2 separate regions of the Homo sapiens genome follow, and region 1 is linked to region 2. Evidence: fine-mapped expression QTL. A gene starts in region 2. The other region holds a variant in brackets. All regions are shown on one strand. Distances are from middle to middle. Region 1 overlaps PHF24 (PHD finger protein 24). Region 2 holds the start of ATOSB (atos homolog B).

What was found. PIP is the estimated chance that this variant, and not a neighbour inherited with it, causes the effect. A credible set is the group of variants that fine-mapping cannot tell apart.
Region 1: its variant is the best candidate, but not a certain one, in a credible set for the expression of ATOSB in whole blood (TOPMed, PIP 0.53).

What each region holds. Positions count from the first base shown.
Region 1 is chr9:34,974,204-34,979,571 of GRCh38, forward strand. PHF24 (PHD finger protein 24) reads left to right here. Exons shown (of 8, transcript NM_015297.3): 4 at 1,949-2,027; 5 at 2,332-2,537; 6 at 2,880-3,040; 7 at 3,343-3,438; 8 at 3,812-5,368. The coding sequence ends at 3,908. Among named protein-coding and RNA genes, the nearest start is that of DNAJB5-DT, 12 kb to the right of the region's middle. The variant C/T (reference allele first, on the strand shown) is at 3,153.
Region 2 is chr9:35,113,124-35,118,491 of GRCh38, forward strand. It overlaps ATOSB (atos homolog B), which reads right to left and starts at 2,739. Exons shown (of 9, transcript NM_025182.4): 1 at 2,682-2,739. RefSeq lists an enhancer at 721-1,550 and a silencer at 2,884-2,943.

The DNA.
Region 1 (5,368 bases), 140 kb before region 2:
CCTATGGTTTTTCAACCACCTATCATATAATCTGACATCTGCATCCATCATTCTGCAGAACTGTTGCTTCCTAAGGTCACCAGTCACCTCCTAATTGTCAAGTCCACTGACCTTTTCTGAGGCATCTTCTTACTTGATCTCTCTGAAGTATTTATTACTTCTTTATTCCTCTCTCTTTTCTTTAGGATTTAAGTATTTTTATGAGAATTATTGCATAAGATATGGAAATGAGAGAAAATAGAAAGTCAATAAAATCCCACCTCAGTGGTGTAACCACCGTTAACATTACCTCCCACATTCTGCAGCTGTCTTTGCTTGGTATCCAGTACCTTCTTCTCTACTGATGCTCTTCCAGCCTTAGTCTCTGACCATTCTTTCTCAATGCCCTTTGTTAGTTTCTTGTCTCAGTCCTGTTTCTCAGGGTTCTGTTGTTTAATACTCTTCTTTTCTCACTGCGCCCTCTTTGGTGACTTCATCTACAGCCACCATCTAAACACTAATGACTCCTATTTCTGTGTGTCCAGACCTAAATTTCCTGTCTCTTGCACTTATCCACCTTGATATCTCACAAGTACTTCACACTCATCATGCCCCAAAATGAACTCATCTTTGCCCCCAAACCTGCTCTTCCTCCACTCCTTATCTCTGTGAATAGTAATACCATGCCCCAGTTACCAATTCCAGTTCAATCTCTCCCTCATGCCTCACATCCAGTGAGTCATCAGGTCCTGATGATGCTGCCTCTAATATCTCTCTTCCCTTCTTCATTCTCATGTCTCAGTTTAGCTGCTCATCATTTCTTGCCTGGACTGTTGCGGCAGCCCCCAACTGCTCTCCACACCTCCAGACTCTGCCGCTCTAATCCATCTTCCACACAGCAGCCAGAGATCTGACCACGGCACTCCCCACTTGAAAACCCTTTGGTGGCTCCCTTTTGCCCTCAGAATAAAGGCCTAATTTGAGGGGCTCGATAAAGGGTATTGGAGGTACTTCATAGTAGGCCCCCTCCTTCCCTCACACACACACTCACATGTACTCCAAACCTCAGCCACACTGAACATCTCACAGTGTTACACACCACTGTGGCGCCCAGTGTTTACTAGGTGCTCAGTAGGTGTTTATTGAAAGTATGGTTTGAAAGAAAAATACAACTATTATATATTAGTTTTTAAAAAGTGTTATGGAAGAAAAAGAATGGTTTGAGTTCTTTATGAAATCCACGTATGAATACTCATGAAATATCTGCTCTTGTACTTTGCGGGTATCTCAGAGGAAGAAAATGACCTTGTACTAGAAAGGATCTTTGATAGTTTAAAGACTGTATGGTAACGTCAACACAATAAGATATTGGTGCTCCTTTGGAATTAAAACTTCTGTGGCACTACAAAAAAACTCATTTGGCTTTAGGAGCCTTGTAATAATGGCATCTTTTAAAACCATTCTGGGGTTATTTAAAGTGATACAACCCACTTGGAGCAGAGCTAGGATTAAACTTTTTTTTTTTTTAACTAAAATACATTTTTAGCACAGCCTAACACAGAAGCCAAGTAGATAAAAGGGATGGAGATGGAGCCGCTCTGCTTGATGGAGATAGGGATTCACAACCTGCCTACTCACTAGCCCCCTTATTCCCTGCAGCAGCTTCCTAAGGCACTTCCAAGAAATCCCTAGGTTAGCTCAGAGGAGAAAACCACTGTTTTAGTAAAGGGACTCAGTGCTGGAGTCAGGATATCTGGGTTCTTGGGGAAGATTCTGCCCCAGAGTAAAGACAACTCTGGCCAAGTCCTTTCTCCTCTCTGGGGCCTCAATCTCATTGATTGTGAATAGGAGGCTGGGATTAGATGATCTTGGAACTGCTTTCCAGTTGAAATTCTATTTCTAGCCCCCTTGACCCTGGCCTTTCTTACTGGCCTGTATGGCCACCGACTCAGCTCTTCCTTATTTTCAGGACAACATCAACTTGCTGCTTACTGAGGAGGAAATGTATAGCCTCACGGAGACCTTTCAGCGGTGTAAAGTCATCCCTGGTAAGGTTGGGTGGTGCTGCATGGATGGAGAGGGGCCGGGCAGATTTCTCCTTCAGGCTTTCTAGAATGAACCATGAAAGGAGTGTTCCATATTTAGTGGGTAGAGGGTAAATGAGTCCTTGTTCCTGAGTTGTTGGCCAGCAGAGTCACCTATCCCTGTCACAGCCTGGGTGACCCTGGCCATGGGAGGCAGAGACTTAGCAAGAGCTGTGGGTTTGGGGGCCCCGAGGGTGCCCTGGAGGTGATGGAGGTGCCCTGAGGCTGAGGAAGGATGGGCATGGCTAGCACGGGGTGCCTCCCACAGATTGCTCCCTGACACTGGAGGACTTTCTGCGTTACCGCCACCAAGCAGCCAAGCGGGGGGACCGTGACAGGGCCCTGAGTGAGGAGCAAGAAGAGCAGGCGGCCCGCCAGTTTGCTGCCCTGGACCCTGAACATCGAGGCCACATAGAGTGGCCTGACTTCTTGTCCCATGAGTCCCTCCTGCTTCTGCAGCAGTTGCGTCCCCAGGTGAGGGCCAGTTGGGGCAAATGTTCCTGGGATACTGGGTGACAAGGGCCTGGGAGGCACGCTGGGCAGATTGGGGGAGCACTGGGTCCTGCTCAAGCAGGGACAAGTATCAGGAATGGGCTCAGGTTCCATCCAGTGACAGATGATCTGGTGCCCAGGCTGAGGAAACTGCGTGAGGAAGACTGATCTGCCCTGGGCCGCACTGGAAGTGCTGATGCCTCCAGAAGGGCTCTGGGCAGCTTCTAAGGGAGGTTGCAAAGGTGGTAATGGAGATAGGATTCTCTATGGCTTGGCAGTTTACAAGATATCTTCACCTCTAAGATCTTGTCTCTTCTTCCCCAGAACTCTCTGTTGAGGCTTCTGACAGTGAAGGAGCGGGAGCGAGCCCGAGCCGCCTTCCTGGCTCGGGGCAGTGGGAGCACCGTCAGTGAGGCAGAGTGCCGCCGGGCCCAGCACTCTTGGTTTTGCAAACGGTTCCCAGAGGCTCCTTCCTGCAGTGTCAGGTCTGCTCCTTACCAGTCCTGGTCCCCACTCAGCCTCTCCTCCTCCCTTTTCCATGCCAGTGGCCCTTCCATACCTCCCTGCTCCCCCTGCCAACAGCCGAGAGAGGAGCCT[C/T]CTGTGCATTAGGTAGAGGATGGTGATGCCTACGGGCCAGGGCATAGGACAGCCTCTGCCTTCAACTCGGTGTTGCCACATGTCAGAAGAGCCTGGATGAGCATGTCCAGAGCCTTGGGCTTACCAGAGTTTGGGAGGGGGCAGGCATTTCACTATCCCACTCCTAACCACGTGTCCTCATGCCCAGCAGCATCAGCCATGTGGGTCCCATCGCAGATAGCAGCCCAGCCAGCAGCAGCAGCAAGAGTCAGGACAAGACCCTGCTGCCCACAGAGCAGGAGTCCAGGTGAGTAGGACCTCCTCACCTGGCCATTTGTACCCTCTGAACCCCCACAAAACACACAAGTAAGAGAGGGCATTACCCACTCCCACTCCAAAACAGCAAGCGCCCACCCAAGAAACCAGGCTCCAAGAGTGCACATTTGACCCAAGTCTATAGGACCAGCCAGCTGGTCTGTTGGCCTGGTAGCACAGCCAGCCATAGCCAGGTCAGGCATGAGCCAAGCTTCCCTGAGTTTTGTGTAGCTCAAGCCATGCTGCCCCTGGGATCAGGGCTCACGCGTCTTCAAACCAGCCTCCTCAAGCCATGCTGCCCCTGGGATCAGGGCTCACGTGTCTTCAAACCAGCCTCACGACTCTGTTCTTTGCTTCCACTCCAGATTTGTGGACTGGCCTACCTTCCTGCAAGAGAATGTCCTCTACATCCTGGCTGCTCGCCCCAACAGCGCAGCCATTCACCTGAAGCCCCCAGGATAGCATGGAGCAGAGAAGCTCGGTTTGAGGACAGTGACATCCTCTCCCTCCTTTCCTTTCTCCCTTCCCCCACCAACCTCTGGCACAGAGACTCATGGGGTTGGGACACTGCCAGCGTCTTAACTTGTCACTAAGCTTTAAGGCACTGAAATCACCATTCCCCTCACAATAGAGGCAGTGAATGCATTGCCACAAGGAGAAGCCCTGGGAGCTGTGGCAGCATCCTCTCCTGGACCGCCCCTGCCCCACATCATAGACGGGACCTGCCACCACACTTATATACATGTGCACATGCTGCCCAGCTGTCCATGCCTTCAGAAGCCTGGTTCTTTTTGGTTGAGAAAGGACCAAAGTCCCTTTGTGAAGCCCCTGGTATAGAGGAGGGGGTCTCTACTCACCCCTTCTATAGGCAGGCCAGTTCTAATTTCCAATAGATAAGTCTCTGGCCAAGTGATTCTTAGGAAGGGGGCATGTCAGACTCGCATGCCTGCCTAGAGCTCCTGGAGATCCTAATGGGCCCCGCTTTCTCCACCAAAAATCCCTTCTGCAGTCAGCTGCTGTTACTAGTAGGTGTGCATTATGTACCTCGGCTGTACTGAGTTGGGAAAAGAGTTAAACATCACCACTGAAATTCAGCCCTTTATTTATTTAAATTCCAATTCCTGGTGACAGAAAAGGCAACTAGCCTGGAGAATCCTGACTGGAAGAGGGGGAGGCAGCCCTTCCCAGGGACTCGGGATTCTAGGAACCTCTCAGTCAGGTCACCTGAGTCCAAAAGTCTTTAGCAGGGTAGTCAAAAATCAAGGTGAGCCTTCTTGGCCCCATTTTTCAGATGGTAGCTCATGGCCTAGGGCCAAGGGGGCCTGAATGGAGCAAACACACTGGCAGGAGCCACAGCCCTCTGTGTTAGATGCTTCACCCAAGTCACCGACCACAGAGACTGACGAGAGCACACTCTGGAGGAAGAGGAGAGAACGGGGCTCTGCTTCCTCATCATTCCAGCTCAACTCAACTGTAGACACCTTCCACAGCCCAAGAAAGATCTGCAGAGCCCTGAGCAGGGACTCTTTCAGCCATCCTGACAAACAGGATAAGAGGCTGGGGCTTAAGAAGAGGCTCTGCAGAGAAGGTCCTGGGAAAGCCTTACAGAAGAAGTTTTCCGCTTCTCCCTATCACTGAGACTCGGCTTGAGTGGCTGCTTCTCCTCACTGCTCATCACATGTCCTTCCCCAGCAGGCTAGGGCTTGGGCCTGGCATGGAAGGCCTTTTGGGGCAATCAGAGGCTGCCACAAGAGCACCAAGCCTGGCCTCCAAGCCCCAGCCCTCCTTCCTAAGTACTCATCAAATTCAAATTCTTCAGTCCGTGTGTTATGGCTCATCTTGGCCGGCCGTGGGGTCCATGTTCTAGGCTTCTGTTTCCAACTTAATGACTTAGGCATAGCGAGATCTGACTACCAAGAGTT
Region 2 (5,368 bases):
CCTTAATAAAAACTTACTAGGAAAACAGAGACGTAGAACACTGTAGGAAAAAAATAATCCCTTAGCAACCCCACCTTATTCTATCTTTCTGCCACTACCATAGGCCAGGCCTTGGTTACCTACAAAGGTCAGAGGACAATAGTTCAGGGTGAAGGATCAAAGATGTTCCAGGCCTCAGTGTACCCTGGGAAAGCAGCAGGGTACAACCAAGAGGACTTACCACCAGGTACGGTGGCTCACGCCTGTAATCCCAGCACTTTGGGAGGCCAAAGTGGGCGGATCACAAGCTCAGGAGTTCGAGACCAGCCTGACTAACATGGTGAAACCCCGTCTCTACTAAAAATACAAAAATTAGCTGAGTGTGGTGGCGCGCACCTGTAATCCCAGCTACTCAGGAGGCTGAGGCAGGAGAATCACTTGAACCCAGGAGGCGGAGGTTGTAGTGAGCCAAGATCGCACCACTGCACTCCAGCCTGGGTGACAGAGTGAGTGAGACTCCGTCTCAAAAATAAATAAATAAATAAATAAATAAATAAATAAATAAATAAATAAAGAGGCCTTACCTTCCTGCCCTAAATTTATCCTGCTTTATTTTTTTTTATATAGCGGTTATCACTACTTGACTTCTCCCTCCCCCTCCACAATTTCTTTCTCCCCTTAATAGAATGGAAGCTCCATGAGAGCAGCAACTTTGTTTCGTTCATGCTCATATTCCCAGAGCCAACATTAGTCCCTGGCAATGTTCAATAAACATTGACTGAAGAAAACAACAGGCCCTGGGCTGAGTGAACAGCAATCCGGCGATCTGGATCCTATCTTCTGCCCTTTCACTGTGACATCTGGGGAATCACAGTCTCTTTAGCCATAAATTTCCAAACCTGTAAAATGAGGTGTTTGTATAAACAATGACTGCTGAGGGCCTCTGCAGCTCTACAATTCTAATGACTGTTGTTCACTCATCTCCATATCAGAGGATAGCTCCAGGCATTCGAATGCTCTGCTGCCTGTACCAAAGCAGAAAGGCTATATCCTCCAGTCTCAGCACAGCAAACTGATGCCCTTTCTCTTCATGCCCCACCCACTCACACAAACCGCCCCAGTCCTGAGGAAGCTGGAGAGTCTGCCCTAGGCCCGCCCTCTCTGAGAGACTGTCTGGGAAGCAGTGTTGCCATAGCAATCAGCTCCTCCTCAAAAGGCTTCAGCCTGCCCTTTTTTACCCCACCCTACCCCAGGGCTTTGTCTGTCCTCAGCAGACCCACCCCCCTCCCCAGCCAGTCTCTCAGCTCCTGGGTGGTTGTGTGAGGAGGCTGGCTTGGGGCCCCTTTTAGCAACACTGTCACACTCATTTAGCCACTGTGTGGAACTCAAGCCTTTCCCACCCTCTCCCAGCCAGCCCAGGGGCAAAAAGAACTCTAGCACTCCATCAAATCCCCTCAGGGAAGCAGAGGAGCCCTCAAGAGAACTAGGTCCTAGCCTGTTCTGATAGTGCTTCCAAGCCTGGAGTGTGGGGAGCCACTCCCTCTTCCTCCCCTAGCTGTGGCTGGAACCTCACAACCCTTACTGGGTTCAGCTTACAGTCGTGGCCCACCTCTCAAAACAGACAGAAGACCCTCAATACTCCTCACCACTTCCCCCCTCCCACAGAAGCCCTAGCGTTCCCTACCCAGAAGGATAAGGGTGGGGAAAATCTGTTTGTGGCAAGTGGTTAAATGTGGCTACCAGTCACTTGGGGATCTATGCGAGAGACCTGGGTGGTAGTGGTGGGGGTGGGGTCTGAGCCCTGCCGCTGGTTACCAGGGTCTCTGGTCATTGATAACAAAGTACCGGGCAGGGCACAGCTCCTAGATGGGCAAGGGCCAGGCCAGGCCCTGGGGCAAGGAAGGAAGTGGGAAATGAGCACACCCAGAGCATAAGGGCAGGGCGGGGGAGGGGGGAGACAGAGACCAAGGCCGGCTCTGGGAGGAACAGGAACTAGGATGGGGGGTTGACAGGAACCCAGCGGGGGAAGGGTCCCCCGGGACCTCAGCTTAGGGAAGAAACCCCAGTCTCAGCTGGACAGATCCAAAATAGACTGAGGAGACATTCACACAAGCCCTAGTGACAAGCAGGGTCTGACTCCTCTCTGAGTGCCCAGGCCAGAAGGCGGAGTTAAAAGCTGAGCAGACAGGAGTGCAATAGATTGGCCTCTTCACCCCACTAACCCCAACACCCTTGCTCTTAGAACCCAGAACACAAGTGTCTTCCTGTAGTTACTACAATGCCCTAAACTGTTACTTTGTCAAAGTACTGGGGGTTCTGTTCTCCTGCCTCAAGTTGGGCCTACAACCCCTTCCCCTAGATAGTGCCCGCAGACCCTCCGACACCGCTACACTCCTTCTCCATTAAACAGCCCCCCTTCCTTCAAAGCACCTCCATGTCCCCTGCCCCTCATGTACCTCCTCCAACCCCCCACATCAGACAGAGACAGCCCCCTCACAATGTACCTCGCAACCCCCCCACAACAAAGCGCTCCCGCCCTTCCCCCATAGAGGCCTCTGGAGAATGCACCTTGTTGCCCACACATTGAGTCCCCAACTGCTCCCGCGACTTCGTATCTTCCCTCAACACACAGCAGTCTCCAGATCGTCTGCAAAGCGCACCCCCATCCGCGTCCCTTCTTCCACGCTCACCCTGCCCCACACCTGTAGTTCCGTGGGTCCCGTTGCACTTGGGGACGTGGTAGTGGTTGGGGCAGTTACTGAGCAGCCCTAGCTGTAGCCTCCGCCTGCAAACCTCGCCCCTTCAGTCTGAGCCCCGCCCCCGCAACGCCCGGGCCCACCCTCTCCCTTGTCCCACCTTCCACCTTCTGTGGACTTGTCCCTTTCCTCGTTTAATTTCTCGAGCTCCTCCCCTGTAGCCCGGGCCCCGCCCCCTTCTGACCTCGCACCTCCTTCGCGTTTTCTTTGCATTTCCCCAGGATCCTCAGCTTTTCCCAGGCCCCACCCCCGATCCCCGCCTCCTCTCGGTCTCTCCGCCTTTCACCAGGACCCGCCCCCTCGGATTCCAGCCTGGCAGAAGTCGCGCCAAGACCCTTCCACCACGATCCCCCTCCCATCTCAGAGCCCCTCCTCCTTCCGCCCCTTCTCCCTCACGCCTCACCCGGGCGGTCGCACTCCAACCAGGATCCGCTGGCTCTGATTGGCGGTGGCGGCCCCAAAGGAGGAAGGAGGAGACAAAGTGATGGTCGCAGGTCGCCTGAGGTCCCACCCCGGCCACGTGCGGCTTCTGTGATGACAAGTCTAGAGGGGCGGGGCCTCGGCCGGCAGGCTGCTAGCCTGAGCGGAGCGGATCAGGGCAGAGGTGGGGAGATGGAGCCAGGGCCAAAGCCACCAGCCTGAGGGCTCTGAGCCGGGTTGGGGCTATCTCGCTGCTTTCGCACCGGTGTGAGCTGCCGCCGGAACTCTAACCTCTTTGTAGGGATGTCTGGGTGGGCGCGTGCATTTGCACTAATAGGGGAGGTCCGTAGGGATTGCAAGGTAGTGCAAGGAATCTCAGGGGTCTGTGAAAATGAGGGAATCTGGGCGGTGGGGTTCAGGTCTGCGAGGTTGAGCAGTTTCTGAAGCCTACGCTGTGCAGGCGGGTGTGGGTTCTGGGATGGGATGGACAGTAGGAGTCAGATCAGTACCTACTGAGGCAGGTCAGCGAGATCTGTGAATTTTACGAGATGAGTGTTGATATGGAGTTAGGAGGGCCTGCAATTGCTGGAGAAAAGTGAGGCCTTTCCCTTGTACAGGTGTCTAATGAACTGCATGACAGTTACATATGTTCTGCAGTTTAAGCGGCGCCCTCTCCAACCTCTCCCCAGGAGATACAATAAGGGAGGGCGACGCTTCCCAGACACCGGTAGATGGCAGCACAGGACACTTGCAGAACTGAGACAGCCCAGCTCAGCGCCGATCTGTGGCCTCTCCGAGGAGCGGACCGTTTGGGTCTGGATTTGATCAAGTTCTACAAAAGTCACATTCTTTTTTATTTTTTTTTGAGACGGCGTCTCGCTCTTTCGCCCAAACTGGAGTGCAGTGGTGCGATCTCGGCTCACTGCAACCTCCGCCTACTGGGTTCAAGCAATTCTCCTGCCTCAGCCTTCAGAGTAGCTGGGATTACAAGCGCGCGCCACCAGGCCGGGCTAATTTTCGTATTTTTGGTAGAGACAGGTTTCACCATGTTGGCCAGGCTGGTCTCAAATTCCTGACCTCAAGCGATCCGCCCGCCTCGGCTGCCCAAAGTGTTGGGATTACTGGCGTGAGCCACAGCACCCGGCCAAATCTCAGATTCTTTAGGCTCTGTGACTTTGTCAGTAGTTAACTTAAACTGGTTTACTCAACGTCAGTGGTGTGGAAGCGCAAAAAAAAGAAAGAAAAAAGTATTTTCTCTGGCCATAAGGAACTTATTATTTAGACAGTGATACAAATGCCTACATAATCCCAGAAGGGTAAACTAAGAAAGGTTTTGGGTAGTGGGAAAACCACAGAGTTTGAAGTCATCTAAACTTCTTCAACTTCAACTTCAAACTTCAACTTATGGGTTCAACTTATGAGTTTGTCTCATACCTTTGAGTATTTACTAGCTGTATAGATTTAGGTAAATTATTTGACTTTAAAAAATTAATTTTAGAACAATTTTAGATTTACAGAAAACTTGTAAAAATAGTGCAGAGAGTTTTCATATATACCCTACACCTAGTTTCTCCTATTATTAACATCTTTCCTTATATGGTTCATTTATTACAATTAATAAGCCAATATTGATACATTAACAATAACTAAAACCCACACTTTATTCTGATTTTCTTTTTGTTTTTTTGAGACGGAGTTGTCGCTCTTTCACCCAGGCTGGAGTGCAGTGGCAAGATCTCGGCTCACTGTAACCTCCACCTTCTGGTTTCAAGAGATTCTCCTGCCTCAGCCTCCCGAGTAGCTGGGATTACAGGCATGTGCCACCACGCCTGGCTAATTTTGTATTTTTAGTAGAGATAGGGTTTCTCCATGTTGGTCAGGCTGGTCTCGAACTCCCGACCTCAGGTGATCCACCCGCCTCGGCCTCTCAAAGTGTTGGAATTACAGGTGTGAGCCACCGCGCCCGGCCTATTCTGATTTTCTTAGTTTTTGCCTTATGTCCTTTTTCTGTGCCAAAATCTAACCCAAGCTGGAACATTACATTTAGACATCATGTCTCCTTTGGCTCCTCTTGGCTGTGACAGTTTTTCAAACTTCCTTGTTTTTGATGACCTTAACAGTTTTTGTTTTGTTTTGAGACAGAGTCTTGCTCTTTCGCCCAGGCTGGAGTGCAGTGGCACGATCTTGGCTCACTGCAATCTCTGCCTCCTGGG